2 separate regions of the Homo sapiens genome follow, and region 1 is linked to region 2. Evidence: fine-mapped expression QTL. A gene starts in region 2. The other region holds a variant in brackets. All regions are shown on one strand. Distances are from middle to middle.

What was found. PIP is the estimated chance that this variant, and not a neighbour inherited with it, causes the effect.
Region 1: its variant is the best candidate, but not a certain one, in a credible set for the expression of CIMAP1A in whole blood (INTERVAL, PIP 0.70).

The regions. Positions count from the first base shown.
Region 1 is chr11:217,828-223,044 of GRCh38, forward strand. It overlaps SIRT3 (sirtuin 3), which reads right to left. Exons shown (of 7, transcript NM_012239.6): 6 at 1,005-1,214. Among named protein-coding and RNA genes, the nearest start is that of MIR6743, 11 kb to the left of the region's middle. The variant T/G (reference allele first, on the strand shown) is at 2,140.
Region 2 is chr11:194,053-199,269 of GRCh38, forward strand. It overlaps CIMAP1A (ciliary microtubule associated protein 1A), which reads left to right and starts at 2,709. Exons shown (of 7, transcript NM_053280.5): 1 at 2,709-2,994; 2 at 3,245-3,361; 3 at 3,509-3,709; 4 at 4,147-4,248; 5 at 4,412-4,533. The coding sequence starts at 3,253. It overlaps SCGB1C1 (secretoglobin family 1C member 1), which reads left to right. Exons shown (of 3, transcript NM_145651.3): 3 at 366-523. The coding sequence ends at 398.

The DNA.
Region 1 (5,217 bases), 24 kb after region 2:
CCAAATCTCACCTTGAATTGTAATCATCCCCATGTGTCAAGGGTGGGGCCAAGTGGAAGTAACTGAATCATGGGGGCGGGTCTTTCCCACACTCTTCTTCTGATAGTGAATAAGTCTCACAAGATCTGATAGTTTTATAAAGGGCAGTTCCCCCGCACACGTCCTCTTGCCTGCCACCTTGTAAGACAGTACTTTGCTCCTGCTTTGCCTTCCACTATGATTGTGAGGCCCCCACAGCCATATGGAACTGTGAGTCCATTAAACCTCTTTCCTTTATAAATTACCCAGTCTCAGGTATGCCTTTATGAGCAGCCAGAGAACAGACTAATACACTGGTGAAATCCCCTTTGGACAGTGTTACACCTGCCTGTAATCATGACACTGGACTTTAAATGCTTAATGCTACCACCTCCCATTGAAAACCCTTAATATCAAGGCTACACATGCTACATGATTCTTATGGGAAACTGCATTTTCTGTAACTTCACTTGTTTATAGGCGGTTTGAAATCTCTTAGAAAGCATCAAGGCTCTTTGGCTTTCCTCAGCGGATTATAATTGATCAATGGCTCTCATACCAATTACTTCCGAAAAGCATCACTCATGTAGCCTTCATCCCACATAGATGCAGAGAACTTTAGCTTCTCAAAGTTCTTTAACCCGTATCATCTTAGAATCACATACCAGGCCTTAGAGGGACACTGTTGGCTGCTTTATTTTAGGGAGTGAAGGTAACGCCTATAGTCTGTTAAGAATACAGACTCATCAGCCCTGAGTGTCTGGACCGTGTCCCTGCTTGGCCTGTTAGCATCTGTTTCCTCATCTCTAAATGGAGGTATTGAAAGTAACACCCAGTCAGGTCCAGGTAGTGCCTGGTGCAGGATTCACAGCATCATCAGCTATTACTGTTACTGTGTTAACCAACGGGGCTCCATATCAGGTGGACCATACCCTAGAGCAGTGAGAAGGGCAGCCCCTTGGATGGTCCTCCTCAGCAGTCTGTACCTTCCCAGTTTCCCGCTGCACAAGGTCCCGCATCTCTTCTGTCCAGCCCAGAAGCTCCACTAGGCTTTCCACGCCGTGAACCACGTCCCCCAGCTGGGCCACGTCCCTGCTGCGAGGATGCCAAGCCAAGGGCCCCACCAAGTCCCGGTTGATGAGCAGTCGGGGAACTGAGCTCCGCACGGCCTCGGTCAAGCTGGCAAAAGGCTCCACCTGAAAAATGGGCCAAACGTGAGGGGCACAGTGTCCACTTTACAAGCTCCTCAGGATGTTTCATGCCACAGCCACCGAGGCCTTGGAGGAGCAGCAGATTGGCAGTCAGAGCCTGCGATATAGGGAAAACCCACCACCAATCTCATTTCTTCAGCTGAGCTCCTGCCGCTTGGCCTCCGTGACGGTTTTCTCCCCTCCGCCTCTCTCTCTCTCTCCCACTTCTTGCTGTTTCCACACATCCTTGCTTTTCCCCACCTCCGTTCCAAGGCTCATCAGGGATCCAACCTTCCTGCCTCCTCTTTGTGAGCACGTTCTGTTCTCCCTGTCCTCCCCACCTCGCTGTCTCCCAGCATGACGCAGAGGGACAACAGCACAGACTCGTCCATCTCCTCTGGCTAGCCCTGCTTGCTCTGACAGCCACCACCAGCATCGGGCACCCAGACGAGCTGGTGCCCCCGAGCAGGAGTTACTGTTACGTCTCTCCATGGTCTTCCCCACCCAGCCTCTAGAGAGGCCTAGCTCGGTGCCATCAGGCTTCTTCATACAGCTCTCAAAGCTTCTTTTAAGAGGAACAAGGTAAAAAAATGGATACATTAATAAATGGCATTAAAACTGGCTCATTATCTGGGAGGAAAATACTCCATTCCTACCTCCCACTGAAAAAAATTCAAATGGATTAAAGGTTTCAATGTAAACAAAACAGTTCTTGAAGAAAACTAAGGATTTACAAGTAAGGATAGGGAAGAACGTTCTAGGCGTAAAAACTGAAGTCAGATAAGGCAAAGGAAAATGACAGATCTGACTATGTAAATACTATTATCTCGGTATCTACATAAAACTACTATGTAGAAAATTTAAAATTTTTAAAAACCTCTCATCATCATAAACTGCAAAAATATTTACAACATATGACAATAGTTTATAT[T/G]GCTAATTGATAAACTCATTTATAAACATATAATTTATGAACTAATTTATAATGCTAATTTATAATGAAATTTATATTAACAGCTGGGCATGGTGGTTCACACCTATAATCCCAGCACTTTGGGAGGCCGAGGCGGGCAGATCAGCTGAGGTCAGGAGTTCAAGACCAGCCTGGCCAACATAGTGAAACCACGTCTCTACTAAAAATACAAAACTTAGCTGGGCGTGGTGGCACGCACCTATAATCCGAGCTACTCGGGAGGTTGAGGCAGGAGAATGGCTTGAGCCTGGGAGGTGGAGGTTGCAGTGAGCCGAGATCGCGCCACTGAACCTCCAGCCTGGGAGACAGAGCAAGACTCTGTCTCAAAAAAAAAAAAAAAAAAAAGAAAGAAGTTTATATTAACATTAAAATGTAATTATATTATTTAATTTATACTAAAATTAAAACTAATTTATATTGCTAATTTATAATGACCCAATGAAAAATGGTCAAGAGGTACAAATATACAATCCAAAGAGAAGAAACACAACTGGCAATAAACATGAAAAGATGAACTTCATTCTTTACTACAGAAAGGCAAAATCCGCACCCCCCTCCACACACACACATGCATTTTTTAACCAATTTGATTTGTGTGATTTTGGTTTTGGTGAGGATGTGATAAAATGGCTACATAAAAACACAGTTTGTGGCAGTGTAATTGTTACATCTTTCTGGAAGGCAAGTTCTCAATATTTATCAGCATTTACCCTTCAGGAGTTCTTGCATGGGTAGATAAGGATGATACACAGGGATATTCACCACAGCATTTACCCTTCAGGAGTACTTGCATGGGTAGATAAGGATGACACACAGGGATATTCACCGGAAGGCAAGTTCTCAGTATTTATCAGCATTTACCCTTCCAGAGTACTTGCATGGGTAGATAAGGATGATACACAGGGATATTCACTACAGCATTTACCCTTCAGGAGTACTTGCATGGGTAGATAAGGATGACACACAGGGATATTCACCGGAAGGCAAGTTCTCAGTATTTATCAGCATTTACCCTTCCAGAGTACTTGCATGGGTAGATAAGGATGATACACAGGGATATTCACTACAGCATTTACCCTTCAGGAGTACTTGCATGAGTAGATAAGGATGATACACAGGGATATTCACTACAGCACGGGATCTCATTCTGTTACCCAGGCTGGAATGCAGTGGCATGATCATAGTTCACTATAACCTCAAATTCCTGGGCTCAAGCAATCCTCCTTCCTCAGCCTCTCAAATAGCTGCAACTACACAGACCATGCCTGGCTATCTTTTTATTTTTTGTAGAGACGAGGTCTGACTATACTGCCCAGGCTGGTCTCAAATGCCTAGCTTCAGGCAATCTTCCTGCCTTGGCCTCCCAGAGTGCTGGGATAACAGGTGTGAGCCACGGTGCCTGGCCCAGCATTACTTTTAATGTAAAAATTATATACTATTTATTATCATTGTCCATCAGTAAGAAATTGCTTACATAAATTTTGTATTAAATCCACAAAATCTATGTTAAAGCTCTTGTGGCTGAATATGTTTCAGAATTTTTGAGATTTTAGAAAAGATCATATGGTTTACATCCCACGTTATGTCACACCTAAAGGGGATCTGGAGTGGTACTCCACAGTCAAACACATTAACATTTCGTCCACAAAGCACATGAGATAGAGTCTGTGCGTGACACCAGCTCATTCAGTTCATGATGGCACCAGCCTTACAGACATGGGTTTCTCAGTTGGGACCTCATATCCGTGTAAGGGAAACTGTTGGCATTAACAACGCAGCACATCTCCATGGACTCACATTGTTACGTGAAAACAGCAGGCTGCAGAATAGAATGTACAGTGCTGTCCAACTTTTAGTTTAAAATTACCATCTGTACGTATGCATTTGTACAAAAAAAAGAAAGCTGAGAGGACACAGAATAAAATGCTAACAGTTGGTGGGATTAAAAAGTTGATCCTTTGCTTTATATCTTTATATAATGTACGAATCTTTTCAAAGACACACATGATACACTTATAATCAGGAAAAAGGCCATTTTCATTTCACTTCAACAATAAAGATGGCTGGTGGCCCAAGTGTCCACACCTGGTGGCCAGCACGGTCAGCTGGTCTCAGCCCACACTGTGCTGACCACCATGGCCCCTCTGACTGCTCCTCCTGTGTCTGTCCCTCCATCCTAGGCCTAGCATGGCATTCTCATGTCTGTCCACACCCTGGGCTCTCCTGTCTGCTCACTCCAGCACCCCAGCTCCTGCCTCTGGGCCTTCCTGGACTCCAGACTCATGTCCACCTGCTCAACACCTCCAGTCCGCAGCACATCCTCAAATCCGTGGAAACAAGGCTGAGTTCCTGAGCTCCCCCAAACCCACCTACCAGGCTTCTCCATCTCAGGAAGCGGCGGCTCCGTCTTTCCAGCTGCTCCAGCCACAGCCCTGGGGTCCTTGGGAATCCACGGCCTCCCATGCACTGTGCCAGCGTACCCACTCTGCGTTCACACACACCCAGACTCCAGCACCCCTCAGCCTCTGCTGGCTTTACCTGGCCCCCAGCCAGTGCCAGCCGGTGATTACCTACAAGGGCCCTGCTGGGTCTGCTGCTCCCAGTCTTGCCCCCATGGTGGGCTCACAGCCCAGCACCCAACGGAGTCCTCTCAACTTCAGACTCTGGCCTGGAACCCAAGCTGAACCCATTCACCTTCTGAGGTGGCGCCAGCCTCCCATGAGATGACACTTGTGCCCCACCTTCTTCTCTGCTCCAGCCCCGTGGCCATCAATGCTGACTTCGCCCCACCCTCCTTGCTGCTTGTCACCTGTGCAGTGTCCCCTGCCAGACCCTCCTCACCTCGGTAAACTCTTAGATCCAACTCCACCTGCCTGACTTGACACTGCAGCTGGTTCCCAACCCTTCTAGCCTTTCTATCCTACTTGTTATCTTTCTCATAACATCAATCATCTCCTAACAAACTATATAACTTCTTACACTGACATCTGACCGTGTATGTCCAAAGCACTGGAGCAGGGCCCAGCACACAATGAATGC
Region 2 (5,217 bases):
CACCCCAGACCTCCTGTCCACCGAGCAGCCCCCAGACTCCATAGACCTCCTCCCCAGTCTGTGGGATACTCCTCCATGCACACATGTGAACATACACAGAGATCCAAACACAGGTGCAGACATGAAATGTACACTGCGTGCACACATGTATAAACACGTTCACACCCACATGCTCACACTGGGATATGCACACACATACATGTGTGCACACCATCACATGTGCACACACACCTCCCAGCTGCTGGGAGGAGATAGGCAGCAATATGCCAGACCCCCCCCCACTGAGGGCCTTGCTTGCCTGATGGAGCTGTGGCTCTCCACTTATTGAGCACAGCCCTCTTAGTCCACATGTGTCTGCCTTCCAGGTGCAAGTGCTGGGCAGTCAGGACGGTGCCTAAGTGGACCTCAGACATGGCTCAGCCATAGGACCTGCCACACAAGCAGCCGTGGACACAACGCCCACTACCACCTCCCACATGGAAATGTATCCTCAAACCGTTTAATCAATAAAGCCTCTTCCGCAGCTCAGGCTCCTGTCTCTGCCCCCACAGAGGGGCACACAAATGGGGACATCAGGAACACACTCGGGGCCACAGCCACACACACAGACCCACATACAGAGGATCCCACTCAAGGAGCACACGTGCGAAAGTCCCCACAGAGGGACACACAAATGGGGACATCAGGAACACAGGGCCACAGCCACACACACAGACCCACATACAGAGGATCCTACTCAAGGAGCACACGTGCGAAAGTCCCCCACAGAGGGACACACAAATGGGGACATCAGGAACACAGGGCCACAGCCACACACACAGACCCACATACAGAGGATCCCACTCAAGGAACACACGTGTGAAAGTCCCCACAGAGGTACACACAAATGGGGACATCAGGAACACAGGGCCACAGCCACACACACAGACCCACATACAGAGGATCCCACTCAAGGAACACACGTGTGAAAGTCCCCACAGAGGTACACACAGGGTCCACACAGGAGCAGGCACACCACAGGCAAGACCCAAAATGGAAATCCAGGCAGACGCCACGTAGGCAGGTGGACAGAGCACAGAGCCAGACAACACTGCGTGGTCGTCCGGAGGGGGCGTCTGGAGGGGGCGTCCGGAGGGAGACGGGCGGCAGAGGCAGCGGTATGAGGTGGGAGCCCCAGAAAGAGGAAGTGTCCAGGACTGGGTGGACACAGACCCCATGTCGCCCATGGGCTAGGTCAGGGCGGGGGTGCTCAGCATCTGAAAGCTGGTGTCGAGCCCCAAGAGGACCCCTGACAAGGCCAAGAAAAAGGTACACCCATGTCCAAGGGGGTTGGGAGCCGCAGGTGAGCAGCCTCTGAGGTCAGCCAGGGCAGCCCCAGCGCCCACACTGACTCACACCCACCACAACCAGCACAGACCCTGATCCTGACCCTGGATCCCAGACTCTCCCACAGCCAGAACCTTCCAGCATTTCAGCTGCCCAATCTATGGTCTCTTCTGGGGGCACAGCTGAGTGGAACCGCCCCATCCTTGGCCACCCTGGGTGCTGAGCCCTGACACTTCACTGCCCCGGCCCTCCTCTCCACACCTCTGTCCTGTCTGAGCCTGGCAAGGGGGCCATGCGGTGCTGTCGGCTCTGTGCTCTGTCCCACCTGCCTACATGGTATCTGCCTGGATTTCCATTTGGCTGAGGGAGCCCTAGGGAGGGGGCCCTGGAGGACTTGGTTACAGGGGACCTGGTGAGGGGACCCAGTGAGGGGGACTTCATGGGTGGGTGCCTGGTTGAGGGGACCTGGTGAAAGAAACATGGTGAGGGGGCCTGGTGAGGGGTGGTCTGGTGAGGGAACTTAGGGAAACCTGGTGAGGAGGACCTGGTGAGGGGACATGGGGGGGACCTTGGTGAGGGGACCTGGTGAGGGGACATAGGGGGACCTTGGTGAGCGGACCTGGTGAGGGGACATGGGGGGGACCTTGGTGAGGGGACCTGGTGAGGAGGACATGGGGGGGACCTTGGTGAGGGGACCTGGTGAGGGGACATGGGGGGGACCTTGGTGAGGGGACCTGGTGAGGGGACCTGGTGAGGGGACATAGGGGGGGACCTTGGTGAGGGGACCTGGTGAGGGGACATGGGGGGGACCTTGGTGAGGAGGACCTGGTGAGGGGACATGGGGGGGACCTTGGTGAGGGGACCTGGTGAGGGGACATGAGGGGGACCTTGGTGAGGGGACCTGGTGAGGAGGACATGGGGGGGACCTTGGTGAGGGGACCTGGTGAGGGGACATGGGGGGGACCTTGGTGAGGAGGACCTGGTGAGGGGACATGGGGGGGACCTTGGTGAGGGGACCTGGTGAGGGGACATGGGGGGGACCTTGGTGAGGGGACCTGGTGAGGGGACATGGGGGGGACCTTGGTGAGGGGACCTGGTGAGGGGACATGGGGGGGACCTTGGTGAGGGGACCTGGTGAGGGGACCTGGTGAGGAGGACATGGGTGGGGAGCCTTGGTGAGGGGACCTGGTGAGGAGGACCTGGTGAGGGGAACATGGTGAGGGGAACATGGTCAGGGGGACTTATAGGGGTGTCCTGTTGGGGGGACCTGGTGGTGAGATCTGGTGAGGGGATCAAAGGCAGAAGCCATTGTCTTGGTCACATAGACAGAATCTAGAACCTGTCATCCCACAGAGCCACATTCTAGAGTTTAGAGTGGGGGACCTCTCCCCAATTCTGTAAGCCCATGAGGAGAGAGGAAGGCCTTTCTCTCCATGCTCCTTTTGCGGGAACTCCCTGGCACCAAGGCCAGGGGGGAAAGGACAGTCTCTGATGAGGATGGGTCTCTAGGCTGCTCTGAGTGCTGTCCCTGCACTGAAGAAGTTATAGTTCCCTCCCAGGCGGCCCCCTCCCTGCCCCTCAGCTCAGCCTCAATCAAGAAGTTCCCCATCTTTGACCACTCCAAGTAGGAGAAACCGGCCCAGGGCTCCCTTAGAGCCGAGAACAGTGGTGAGTTAAGGGCCAGCATGGACAGCAACTCTGGGTTACAGTTAAGCTGGTGAGGAGCTCACAGACCCATGCAGAAAGCTCCTACTGTCCCTGACTCCTGGCTCCCAGCTGGAGATCCCCACTGATGCTGCAGCAGGTTCCGCAGGTCTTACCCTTCAGTGTCAGCAAGAGCAGGGTCGGGGACATCAGGGGCCGGCATGGGACAGGGCCGGGCCTCCCAGCACCTGGTAACCCTCTCACTTACGGACAGAGCTGGCCATGACGGAGGAGGTATGGATGGGTACCTGGAGGCCCCATCGCCCCCGGGGACCCATCATGGCCCTCTACAGCAGCCCTGGACCCAAGTACCTGATTCCACCAACAACAGGTAAGAGCCTGAGAGACTGTGGGAGAGGGTCAGGAGCCAGGCGGGCAGGTGGGGGTCCCGGGAAGGGCCTGGGGCTCAATCCCTGACTCCCAGCGGGGAGAAGGGCAGGTCAGGCTCCGGGCTGCTCAGGGCCCATTGCGTCCACAGGCTTCATGAAGCACACGCCCACCAAGCTGCGTGCACCGGCCTACAGCTTCCGTGGGGCCCCCATGCTCCTGGCAGAGAACTGCTCCCCAGGGCCCCGTTACAATGTAAACCCCAAGATACTGAGGACTGGCAAGGACCTTGGCCCTGCCTACTCCATCCTGGGGCGCTACCAAACCAAGACCATGCTGACTCCTGGTCCAGGTTAGTGACCCTGTCTCAGGCTCCTGCCCTGCGCAGCCTCAGGCCTGCCCCTCCCTGCTGGGTGCCCCTAACCTCATGTCAGCAAGGGTGTGGGAGAGCTCAGCCATCCTGGCCCCTCCCGTCCCATCTTTCTCTCTTGAGGGGTCACCATCGTGCCTGGGCAGAGAAGACTCTGGCCCAAGAGTCCAGCTCCGACCTGGACCTTTCTCTGCCAGGCCGACGTCAGACCCCACTCTCCCTGCTCAAAAATAGCCTTTGTCTCACCAGCCCTGAAGTCAGCATTTCCATCCTGGACACCCCCTGACCCGACTTGGTCACCACCTGTGTTGGAGCCCAGAGGCCCCACGCCTAGAATGTTGGGGAGTCCTCCTTGAGCCCCCAAACTGGGCTGCATACCCACCTGCTTGTCCCAGCAGCCCCCTTGGCTCCTTGTCCAGGTGACTACTTTCCAGAGAAATCCACCAAGTACGTGTTCGACTCAGCACCCAGCCACTCCATCTCTGCCCGGACAAAGGCATTCCGAGTGGACAGCACCCCAGGTCCGCAGCAGCCCCAACCATCCTCAGCCAAATGGACCTGGGGATCCTGGGTGGGGTGTGTGACATGGGGCAGCCCGACGGCTGATCTCCAGAGTTGGGGGAGAGCCCCAGGGAAGGAGCAGTGGGCCCTGTTCCGGCCTGAGGCTCCACGTCCACCCTGCAGGCCCCGCTGCGTACATGCTGCCCATGGTAATGGGGCCCAATACCGTCGGCAAGGCCTCCCAGCCCTCCTTTTCCATCAAGGGCCGCAGCAAGCTGGGCGGCTTCAGCGACGACCTACACAAGGCAAGGGCCACCCCAACTGAGAACAGAGAATCACCCCCAACCATCTGAACCCTCCCCCGGAACCCAGGACCCACCAGTTCGGCCCTGCCTTGCCAATGCCCCTCAGCCCCCTCAGCCCTTCACCCTCTGGGCACCTGCCACGTGCTGGGGTTACACTGCAGTGGTGAGGAGGGGCAGGCAACAGGCCAGAAGGGAGACGCCCTGGCCCCAGCATGGACCGTGCTGAGGACAAGAGATGGGGTTTAGGAAGCACTGTCTGGAGAGAGAGAGGCAATCTTAGATAGGGTAGCATGGAAAGAAGAGGAGGAGGAAAAAATAAACCATGAGCTATTTGGGGGAGGAGGGTCCTGGTTTCAGAAACAGCCAGTGCAAAGCCCCTGGGTGGCACATGCCTGAGAGCTTGAGGGGCCTGAGATGGGGAAGCAGCATCATGGCACCCAACAGCCCTCGTCCATGTTGATTTTGCCAGCCCCAGGCCCTCAGGTCCAACAGGGCAGCAACAGCCTCTCTCACACACGCTCAGCGATGTTCCCAGGACTGGCACACACTGGGGATGCCATTGCCAGCGTGAGGCTGAAATGGAGGAAGTGACCCCCACATGAGGTACCCCACAAGCAGTGGGGTGTGATCTCCACAGTGTGACAGAAGACAGAAGGGGACCTTGATGCACGGGCACCAACTTGT